Linked DNA regions of Homo sapiens. The protein of the gene in region 3 purifies or fractionates together with the protein of the main gene of each other region. This does not show direct contact. Each region holds a gene or a part of one and is shown on either strand. Other genes may lie near its edges.

Evidence for each region.
Region 1: the proteins of GDAP2 (region 3) and ZDHHC2 fractionate together in Homo sapiens (co-fractionation; one large-scale study listed by BioGRID). This does not show direct contact.
Region 2: the proteins of GDAP2 (region 3) and BLTP3A purify together in Homo sapiens (affinity purification with mass spectrometry, with the first as the bait; one large-scale study listed by BioGRID). This does not show direct contact.

What each region holds. Positions count from the first base shown.
Region 1 is NC_000008.11:17,201,290-17,205,024, forward strand, and holds part of ZDHHC2 (palmitoyltransferase ZDHHC2), read left to right. Parts: intron 1-3,735. UniProt on the Homo sapiens protein: Palmitoyltransferase that catalyzes the addition of palmitate onto various protein substrates and is involved in a variety of cellular processes.
Region 2 is NC_000006.12:34,865,083-34,868,582, reverse strand, and holds part of BLTP3A (bridge-like lipid transfer protein family member 3A), read right to left. Parts: intron 1,359-3,500; coding exon 1,204-1,358; intron 1,118-1,203; coding exon 967-1,117; intron 1-966. UniProt on the Homo sapiens protein: Tube-forming lipid transport protein which probably mediates the transfer of lipids between membranes at organelle contact sites. May be involved in the retrograde traffic of vesicle clusters in the endocytic pathway to the Golgi complex.
Region 3 is NC_000001.11:117,919,478-117,923,212, forward strand, and holds part of GDAP2 (ganglioside-induced differentiation-associated protein 2), read right to left. Parts: intron 948-3,735; 5' UTR 881-947; coding exon 705-880; intron 1-704.

The DNA.
Region 1 (3,735 bases), on a different chromosome or scaffold from region 3:
GTGACTACACTATTGATTGAATCTGTTTCTTTTTGTTTTCTTCACTTAATGTATCCTGGAAATGTTTCCGTATGAATATATAAAAAATCTTTTTCTACAGGCTTTGTGTGAATGTATTCATCTAATGGCAGTCACTTATAGGACTTTTAGGATGTTTTCAGACCCAGGGGCAGCCTTTTCTCTCTCTCTCTCTTTTTTTTTTTTTTTTTTTTTTTTTTTTTTAGATGGAGTCTAGCTCTGTAACCTGGGCTAGAGTGTGGTGGTGCGATCTTGGCTCACTGCAAGCTCCGCCTCCTGGGTTCATGCCATTCTCCTGCCTCAGCCTCCCAAGTAGCTGGGACTATAGGCGCCCACCACTACGCCTCACGGTTTTTGGTTTTTTTTTTTTTTGTATTTTTGGGTTTCACGGTGTTAGCCAGGATGGTCTCGATCTCCTGACCTTGTGATCCACCCGCCTCAGCCTCCCAAAGTGGTAGGATTACAGGCATGAGCCAACGCGCCCGGCCAGGGCAGCTTTTTTATACAGGTATTTTAAACAGGTATTTTGAACCTTCATATCTGTCAACTTTGAATATTTGAAACATTGGATCAACAATACCTCTCTATTTGTCAGTGATTTCTCAATCTCTGCTCTGGCCACTTAAGATTACCCACCAGAATTCTGGGGATCAATCTCATACTTGTGTTTTAACTAAAACAGATTCCGTAGTATTTGCTTTATGGGATTTTCTATCAAAGTATTTTTTTCCTTTAGTATAAGATTTTAGTTAATTACTTCATATTAATAATACTTTCACATGCTTGCCAAAGGTTAAGTAACACAAATAAAAACAAATTATTTGAGCTTCAGTTTATTGAGTGCCGGTTATGTTCTAGAGGCCATACACATAATCTGTAATACTTTTAACAGCGACAGAAGTAGAAATTGTTTGTCTCATTTTATTTTATCTTATTTTTTTGAGACGGAGTTGCCTAGGCTGGAGTGCAGTGGCACGATCTTGGCTCACTACAACCTCCACCTCCTGGGTATTTGTCTCATTTTACAGGGGAAAAAAATGAGTCTCAGAAAAGAGAAAGAGAGGGCTCAAAGTCACATAGGAAATTTTTTTTTACTTCAAAGGCCACACTCCTTCCAATGTATTATGTTCTTTTTCAAATTTAAAGTCAGAAAGCAATTGCCCAGAAACAGGGCCAACAGCTGTGTTTTACACTGAACTTAAACAACATAAGAAGAATATTTTCCTAGAACGTGTTTTGTTTCTCCATATGAAATCATTCCTTTTCTAGATGGAGAAATAGATTCAGAATAAGTCTTCTTCCTTTTATATTGAGTCTATAAAGCAATAGGCAGTTAAAATGTCTAGCCAAAAGCTGTCTATTGTGAAGACAGTAAGGTATTATTCAAAATAAATGTCACTATATTTCTTCTAGTTATATATATATATACACACACACACACACACACATATACATGCACATACATACACACACACATACTCTATGTATATACATATTAAACTCTAAAATATATGGTCTTCATTTACTGACCTCCTTTGTCCCTAGCTCTAGCATGGCAAATTTTACCATCCCCTCAAGCAAAGCTAAATTAGTTGTTACAAAATCTGTGATCAAAATCATTTTATAAAAATACTCTTTATTATTTAATTCAAGAGCTGCTGCTTATATTCCTTCAGGAAGAGAAACAATCTTTTCTATCCCTTCCAATTTCTTCCTAGTCCACAAGTCATTATTTACACCCATGTTGTCCAAAGTCTTTTTTTTTTTTTTTTGAGATGGAATTTCACTGTCACCCAGGCTGGAGTGCAGTGGTGAAATCTTGGCTCACTGCAGCCTCTGCCTCCCGGGTTCAAGCAGTTCTTCTACCACAGCCTCCCGAGTAGCTGGGATTACAGACGTGCACCACCATGCCAAGATAATTTTTGTATTTTTATTTTACTTTATTAATTAACTTTTGAGATGGAGTTTTGCTCTTGTCGCCCAGGCTGGAGTGCAGTGGTGCAATCTCAGCCTCCTGGGTTCAAGTGCTTCTCCTGCCTCTGCCTCCCGAGTAGCTGGAACTACAGCCATGTGCCACCATGCCCGGCTAATTTTTTGTATTTTTAGTAGAGACGGGTTTTCACCAAGACCATGCCAGGCTGGTCTTGAACTGCTGACCTCAGGCGATCTGCCTGCCTCGGCCCCCTAAAGTGCTGGGATTACAGGCGTCAGCCACCACGCCCACCCATATTGTCCAAAGTTTTAAAGCACCCAGCTTTTGCCTACCCATTCTTTCCCCTTGAAACCAACATAAGTAAGCAAAGGGAATACCCTGTATCCTTTTGAGACAGAATACAGTTAGATTAGGCTGTTTCCAGTATTATTTCCTGCCATGATTCCATTCAAACACCATAAAAGGCAACCTCAGCAACAGGCTTGCATCCCCCCACTGGAACCTCTAGAGATGCAGATGTAACTGTTTCCATACAATGTGCACGCACAATTTGTGGCTTCTTTTTTTTCTTTTTTTTTTTTTTTTTGAGAGGAAGTCTCCCTTTGTTGCCAGGCTGGAGTGCAGTGGCGCAATCTCAGCTCACTGCACCCTCCACCTCCCGGATTCAAGCGATTGTCCTGCCTCGGCCTCCCGAGTATCTGGGACTACAGGCGTGTACTACCACGCCCAGCTAATTTTTGTATTTTTAGTAGAGACAGGGTTTCACCATGTTGGCCAGGATGGCCTTGATCTCTTGACCTTGTGGTCTGCCTGCCTCGGCCACCCAAAGTGCTGGGATTACAGGTGTGAGCCACCACGCCCAGCCAACTTGTGGCTTCTTTATAAATTATTTGCCCATATGTAAGACCTTTAAGTTTACAAATTACTAAATCTAATGCTATTCCCTTTACCTTATATTTTTTGAGGGAGATGATGTAAACATTTTTTTCACATGAACATGGTTTCATTTTTACAAATCTAGAAAGAAAAGTGTTTCATCTTAGTAGCTAAGTCAATGGAGAGTGAGATGATTTTTACCTACGTTAGAAGGGGAACAAGAACGTTTGAGAAAAGGAAACAATATGTGTATGTTCTGTGCAATAGGCTGAATACTAGAAAAGGAAACCTGTATGTTCTATTTAATAGGTTCGTTATACCGGTTAACCAAGAAGTTACTCAACCCATGAAGGTATTAGCCAATTCCACATGGGTGATGTATCACATTGACACAAGGTCATCCAGTAGTGCCCTTGTCTTTATGAAAAGGAAATCAAAAACTTTGATAGAAAGAGAGTGAGCCTATAAGCCTATGAGTGGGAGCTAAATGATGAGAACACATGGACACAGAGGAGGGAACAACACACACTGGGGCCTTTTGGAGGGAGGAGGGTGGGAGGAGGAAGAAGGCTAAGCAAAACAACTAATGGATACTAGGCTTAATACCTGGGTGATGAAATAATCTATACAACAGACCCCCACAACTCACGTTTACCTGTCTAACAAACCTGCACTTGTATCCCAAAAATTAAAGTAAAATAAAATATAAATAAATAATTTTTTAAAAAAGAAAAATCTTAACAAAAAGAAAGTGAGCCTATAAAAATGAATTGTATTTGTACTTAGGTTTATTGATACAATAGTTTGATTTGTCCCCCCTCAGATAACGACTTTGGAGTGAGAACTGAGATTTATAAATTTCCATATTTGGAATTATAGCATATTTAGAGCCGACTTTTGGAAATGAC
Region 2 (3,500 bases), on a different chromosome or scaffold from region 3:
CTAGCTAATTTTTTTGTATTTTAGTAGAGACGGGGTTTCACCATGTTGGCCAGGGTGGTTTCAAATTCCTGACCTCAAGTGATCCACCATCCTGGGCCTCCCAAAGTGCTAGGATTACAGGCATGAGCCACCACACCCAGCCTGTATTTTTTGTACAGCTGAGGTCTTGCTATGTTGTTCAGGCTGGTTTCCCACCTCAGCTTCCCAGCGTGCTGGGATTACAGGCATGAGCCACCATGCTCAGCCTAAAAATATATTTATATATATATATTTTTTGAGACAGAGTTTCACTCTTGTCACCCAGGCTGCAGTGCAATGGCACGATCTCAGCTCACTGCAACCTCCACCTCCTGGGTTCAAGCAATTCTCCTGCCTCAGCCTCCCAAGTAGCTGGGATTACAGGCACCCGCCACCACGCCCAGCTAATTTTTATATTTTAGTAGAGACAGCGTTTTACCATGTTGGCCAGGCTGGTCTCGAACTCCTGACCTCAGGTGATCCACCCACCTCAGCCTCCCAAAGTGCTGGGATTACAGGCATGAGCCCCGCGCCCAGCCAATAATTTTTAAATGAAGTATGTAACATAAGCCAAGATTTTTCTTGTCATCTTTTATAAATGAAAATTCACATCAAAGGACTGAATCTGAATGACAGAAGTTCCCTGATCAGATAGTTTTATGTTAAGAGACACACAAATGAAGTGGACACTGTCCTCATCTATAAGCTCCAGGAGTACCTGGAAGTGAAGTTGGAGACTAGCACAGTGAATGCAAAGCCCCAGAAAGAGCTCTGAGAGGCTCTTTGCAAAAAAGGCTTCAATGGAGTTTTTCCTCCCCCTAATGGCTGCTGGAGAGAACTTGGCACTAGTAGAGTGGCTGCCCTTAGAGCACAGTGACAAGTACAAGTTAATCTATGGCTGTCCTAGACAAGTCCCATGATCTGTCGTGGAATGACTACCATCCTTACCTGGGCACTGTCCATGCAGGAACTGCCAGAGTCCCACGGTGCCCAGCTGCTGGAGGGTCAGTTCCTCTGCTTGCAGGGCCACAGTCAGGTCCTCACCACGTACCTCAATCCCAAAAGACACCTCATTCACCTTCAGGACCAGAACTGAGACCTATCAAAGGAGATTCTCTTAGTTTTAAGTCCCAAGCTCTCAGCCCAGAGCCTACCCTCTGCAGAGAAGAAAGTAGAGCTGCTGACCGGGTGAAAGATGAGGTCTTCTCCACTGGGTGAAACTGAACTGTTGGCTGCTGGTGACCCCTGGCCATAATTATTCACAAGAGGGCTCCCTTGAACACCAGCATTATCTGAGACATTTGAAAGAGATCCTGGTGGAACAGATTCTGGACCAGACTCTGCATGAAAAAGAGGACAAATGAATTTAAAAGTCAAAATATTCTGTTCAAATCCAACCTCTACAAACAATGACAACTGTAAAAATAAAACAAAATACTTATGACATTCATGAGACAACTAGAAATTTGAGGACTAACTAGATATTTGATGAATTTAAGGAATTACTCTTAATTTTTTAAAGTGTAATGACATTTGATCCCATTTTTAAAAGTCTGTAAACAGAAGCAACCCAAGTGTCCTTCCATGGATGCAAGGATAAGCAATGTGGTATATAAATACAATGGAACACTATTCAGCCTTAAAAAGGAAGGAAATTCTGACACACGCTACAAAATAGAAGAATCTTGAGGATATACCAAGTGGAATAAGCCAGTGATAAAAGGACAAATACTGCATGATTCCACTTATATGAGGTACCTAAAGTAGGCAAATTTATAAAAATAAAGTAGAATCATGGTTGTCAGGGACTGAGGGGAGGGGAAATGAGGAGTTACTGTTTAATGAGTACAGAGTTTCTGTTTCGCAAGAAGAAAAACATCCTGCAGATAGACAGTAGTAATGATTGTACAACAATCAGAATGTACTTAATGTCACTGAACTATCCACTTAAAAACGGTTAGGATGGCAAATTTCATATGTATTTTACCACAATTTAAAAAAATTTAAGTCTGTATTTTCTAGCAATGCATAACTGAAAATATTTATGGACAAAAGGATATGTTTGGGATTTGCTTCAAAATATTATGAGATGAAGGAAAGTGGGCAGTAGTGTTTATGAAACAAAAATGGCCACGAGTTCTTTTTTTTTTTTCTTTTTTTTGAGATGGAATAGTCTCGCTCTGTCGCCCAGGGGAGTGCAATGGCGTGATCTCGGCTCACTACAACCTCCACCTCCTGGGTTCAAGCAATCTCCCACCTCAGCCTTCTGAGTAGCTGGGATTACAGGCGCACGCCACCATCCCTGGCTAATTTTTGTATTTTTAGTAGAGACAGAGTTTCACCATGTTGGCCAGGCTGGTCTCAAACTCCTGATCTGCCTGTCTGGGCCTCCCAAAGTGCTGGGATTACACGCGTGAGGTACTGTGCCGGCCTTCTCTTTCCTTTTAGACTGGATGCTTCCCAAGGCAGAAATCCAGTCACAAGTTTAATTGCTGTCTAAGGTGAATATATAAGAACCCCAGGAGATTTTTCAGAACTTTAATTTAAATTTGAGAATTAGGTTTCACCTTAAGTGATCCGCCCACCTTGGCCTCCCAAAAGGCTGGGATTACAGGCGTGAGCCACTGCCCCGGGCCTGCCATGAGTTCTTAATTTCAAAGCTAGGTAATGGGTGTATGAGGGTTCATTATTTGATTCTGTCTACTTTTGTACATAGACATGAAATCTTCCATAAGAAGTTAAAAATAATAACAAAACAAACATGGTACATGCCACCCAGCTTAAGAAACGGTGCATTCTCTTAAATTAAAACCACAGTGAAATATTAACTCACTCCTGTCAGAATGCCTATTCTCAAAAAGATTAAAGATAACAAGTGTTGGCAAGGATGTAGAGAAAAGGAAACCCTAGCACCCTGTTGGTGGAAATGTAAATTAATATGGGCATTATGGAAAACAGTATGAAGGGTCCTCAAAGCTAAAAATAGAGTTACCATATCCACTTCTGGGTATATATCCAAGGAATATGAAAAAAAGTATATCAAAGAACTATCTCCATTCCTGTGTTTACTACAACATTATTCACAACAGCCAAGTTATGGGATCAACTTATGTGTTCATCAACCAATGAACAGATAAAGAAAATGTGGTACAAACACACAATGGAATACTATTCAGCCTTATGAGAGGGAAATCCTGTCATTTGTGATAACGTAGATGAATCTGGAGGACAGACAATATGCTAAATGAGATAAGCCAGGCACTGAAAGACAAAAATAGCATGTGCTCACTTACACATGGAATGTAAAACAACTGTACTCATAAAAGCAGAGAGCAGGATGGTGCTTAACAGAGGCTGAAAAGGGAAATGGGAGGGGTTAGGAGGAAATGTTAGTGAACGTGTAATGTTTCAGTTAAACAGGAGAAATAAATGGTAAGTATTTGAGGTGACGGAGATGTTAATTAGTTTGGCTCAAAAATCCC
Region 3 (3,735 bases):
ATTTATATGAAATGTTCAGAATTGGCAAATCTGTAGAGACAAGAAAGTAGATCAGTGGTTGCCCAGAGGGATTAAGGAAAAATGGGGAGTGACTGCTAATGGGGCTTTGGGCTGATGAAAATGTTCTAAAATGGACTGTGGTGAGGGTTATGCAACTCTATGAATATATTAAAAATCACTAGATTGTGCAATTTGAATTGATGAATTATATTGTATATGAATAGTATTTCAGTAAAGCAGTTTTTTAAAGCAATGAACTACTACTGATACACACAACACAGATGAACTTAAATCCATCATTCTGCTGAAAACAGACCAAAAAGCACACAATTCAATTTAAATAAAACCCTAGAAAATGCCAACTAACCTATAGTGACAAGAAGATCAGTGGTTGCTTGGGGATGGGGAGGGAGGGAAGGGCAGGAAGGAGGAATTACAAAGGAACAGAAAAAAAAACTTTTGGAGGTGACAGGTATATTCACTATCTTGACTGTGGTAATGGCTTCAAGGATGTATTAACAGAAGTCAAAACTTATATTGTATACTTTAAATATGTAGCTTATTAAATGTCAATTATACCTCAATAAAGTCATATACGTATACGCAAAGCTGTATTTCAACAATGCTAGGGCTTTAAAAAAGAGGTTAGAATAAATTATGAGAAAGTGTTATCTCCTCATGATATGATGTAATCAAAAAATTACCAAAGAACCACTTTTCCATTGACGTCCTTATTATAAAGAAAAGGTGATCGAACAGTGTCTTCCTGAAATATTTCAGCTGTAGTATCAGAGGAATTTAATTCATCTTGGCATGAGTCACCCCAGCTTGGTAGTGTATCCACATCCACAAACTGGGAAGGTGCACCTAAGGGATCCATGGAATGGGAACTTTGATTTGTCTTTTCCCAAAATCCTCAGCAATTCAATATTCACTGGAGACTTTAGCTTTAAGAGAAAAGAAAGAATCACTTTAATAGAGAAGCACAGATATTACTTGAATTCTATTAAAGCAGTAAACAAAATTCCACTGTGAAATATCCCAATAGTATATTGTGTGATTATAGCCACTTAAAAAGTCCATTAAAAACAATGGACAACAAAGAATTGCTACAGAATTTCTAAAACAGGATTAAAGAGTGATTATTTAAGCATAAATTCTTTTCAAAGAATTACAGCCATTAAAATAATCACAGGCCCACCAATTCTACTTTCCAGAAACAGGACTATTCATTCAACATTCACTGAGTGCCTACTATTGAAAAAAAAAAAAAAAGTAATAGATGCTGCAAGAGATACAAAGATAAACCATATGTATAATTTAAAGTCTGATGATAATGTGGAGGATGTACTGAGTAAGACAAAATGAAAAGCTGGGAGGTTACTGCAATCAAGTAGTAAGAGATGATAAAGGTTTCAACTAGGAAAGGAGATACAGAAGGAGGCAAACATTTAAGAGGCAAAATACAAAGGAAGGATGAACAGGAGTTGACAATTTACAGGATATGGTGTGTGAGACAGTGATATGGTAGGTGGCTGGTGGTACTGAAATACAAACATTAGAAGAGGAGGGTGTTGGAAGACACACAGCGTCAAGTACTAGAGAGAAGCAATGGGAAATTCTTTGTTGCTAGAGAAAAGGAGAATCAATTTGCCTATGAGTCAAACATCTATTTCAGTAAAATGGTATATTCATTCATCGAATAAATCTTTGTATTGTGTCACTGCACTCCAGCCTGGGCAACAAGAGCAAAACTCCGTCTAAAAAAAAAATATTTGCAAGCATCTATTATGTGTTAAATACTATTCTAGGCACTGGGCACACACTGGTGAATAAGAGCAAGTCCCTGCCCTTCAGGAGCATATGTTTCCATGGAGAAGACAGAAGATGACAAATGATAAAGAAACAAGCGGGTATCTAACAGAATGACTAGAGAAGTAAGCATTATGAGAGAACAGGTAACATCTCAGTAGAAAGATACAATGAGAGAGCAACCACATGAAGCTCTGGGAGATGTTTCAGGCAAAGGAAATGGCAAGTGCAAAGGCCAAATAGGCAGGAAGGATCTTGGTATATTACAGGAGGAGCAAGGAGGCCAGTTTAGGAAAAGCAGAATAAGCTAGGTAATGAGTGGTAGGTGATGAGGTTGGTAAGAGAGGGAAAAACCAGAGGATACTGTTTGTAAACTATGGTAAGAAGTTTAGATCTTATTCTAAATATGAGGGATGCTATTAGAGGATCTTGATCATGGTAATGATTAAATATAAATAATATTTGAAAAGAATACTGTAGCTACAATGAAACTGAGATGGGGCAAGAGTAGATGCAGAGATCAATAGAAAATGACTGCAATAATTTAGGTGAGATGGTAGTGATGAGAAATGTTAGATTTGGAATGTATTTTGAAGGTGGTGTCAACAAGACTTAAGAATATAGACAGTAGGGAGAAAGAGCAGAACCAAAGATAACTTCTGGATTACTTGCTTACACAATTGAGTAAATGTTATGCTATTTACCGAGAAGGGAAAAACTGGAGTAGGTTGTAGGGTAGAGTGATAACCAATGGTTTTTTTTTCTTATGTCTTTTTGGGTGTGCTACATTTGAGATGCTCATTCTATGACCAAGTGTTTATGTCAAACATGCAAATTGGTTATATGAGGCTAGAGCTCACAGAAGATGCGGCTAAAGATATAAATTTGGAATTCTCAGCATATGGATGGTATTTAAAGCTATGGAAACTGGACAAGATAGCCTAGAGAGTAAATGCAAATAGAGAAAACAGATCCAAGGACTGAGTCCTACAACAAAACTTAGAGGCTGGAAAGAGGACAAGTCAGAAAGTGAGAGAGAGAAGGAATGCTAAGAAAGGAAGGTAAACCAGGAAAGCATGGTGGCCTAAAAGCCAAGTGAAGAAAACATTTCAAGCAATACTTGAGAAGTATCAGTTAAATGATACTGAAAGGTTGAATAACAGGACTAATATCAAGGGAACATGCCCCCGATAATTCAATATTATTTCATGTAGGTTCTTTTCTATTTCCCTAAGTGTTGGCCGGTCTGAGAAATAAAGGGAAAGAGTACAAAAGAGAGAAATTTTAAAGCTGGGTGTCCAGGGGAGACATCACATGTTGGCAGGTTCCATGATGCCCCCCAAGCCACAAAACCAGCAAGTTTTTATTAGCAATTTTCAAAAGGGGAGGGATTGTACGAATAGGGTGTGGGTCACAGAGATCACATGCTTCAAGGGCAACAAAAGATCACAAGGCAGAAGGTCAGGGTGAAACTAGAATCACTAATGAACTTCCATGTCCCGCTGTGCACGCATTGTCAGGGTTCAAGAGCAGAGAACCGGTCTGACTAGAATTCGCCAGGCTGGAATTTCCTAATCCTAGCAAGCCTGGGGGCGTTGCAGGAGACTAGGGCATGTTTCATCCCTATCTACACCTGCATAAGGCAGACACTCCCACGGTGGACATTTCAGAGGCCTCCCCTGGGAATGCATTCTTTTCCCAGGGCTGTTAATTATTAATATTCCTTACTGGGGAAAGAATTCAGTGATACTTCTCTTATCCGTTTTTGGTAATAAGAGAAATATGGCTCTGTCCTGCCCTGCCCACAGGCAGCCACACTTTAAGGTTATCTCCCTTGTTCCCTGCATCGCTGTTATCCTGTTCTTTTTTGAAGGTGCCCAGATTTCATATTGTTTAAACACACATGCTCTACAAACAATTTGT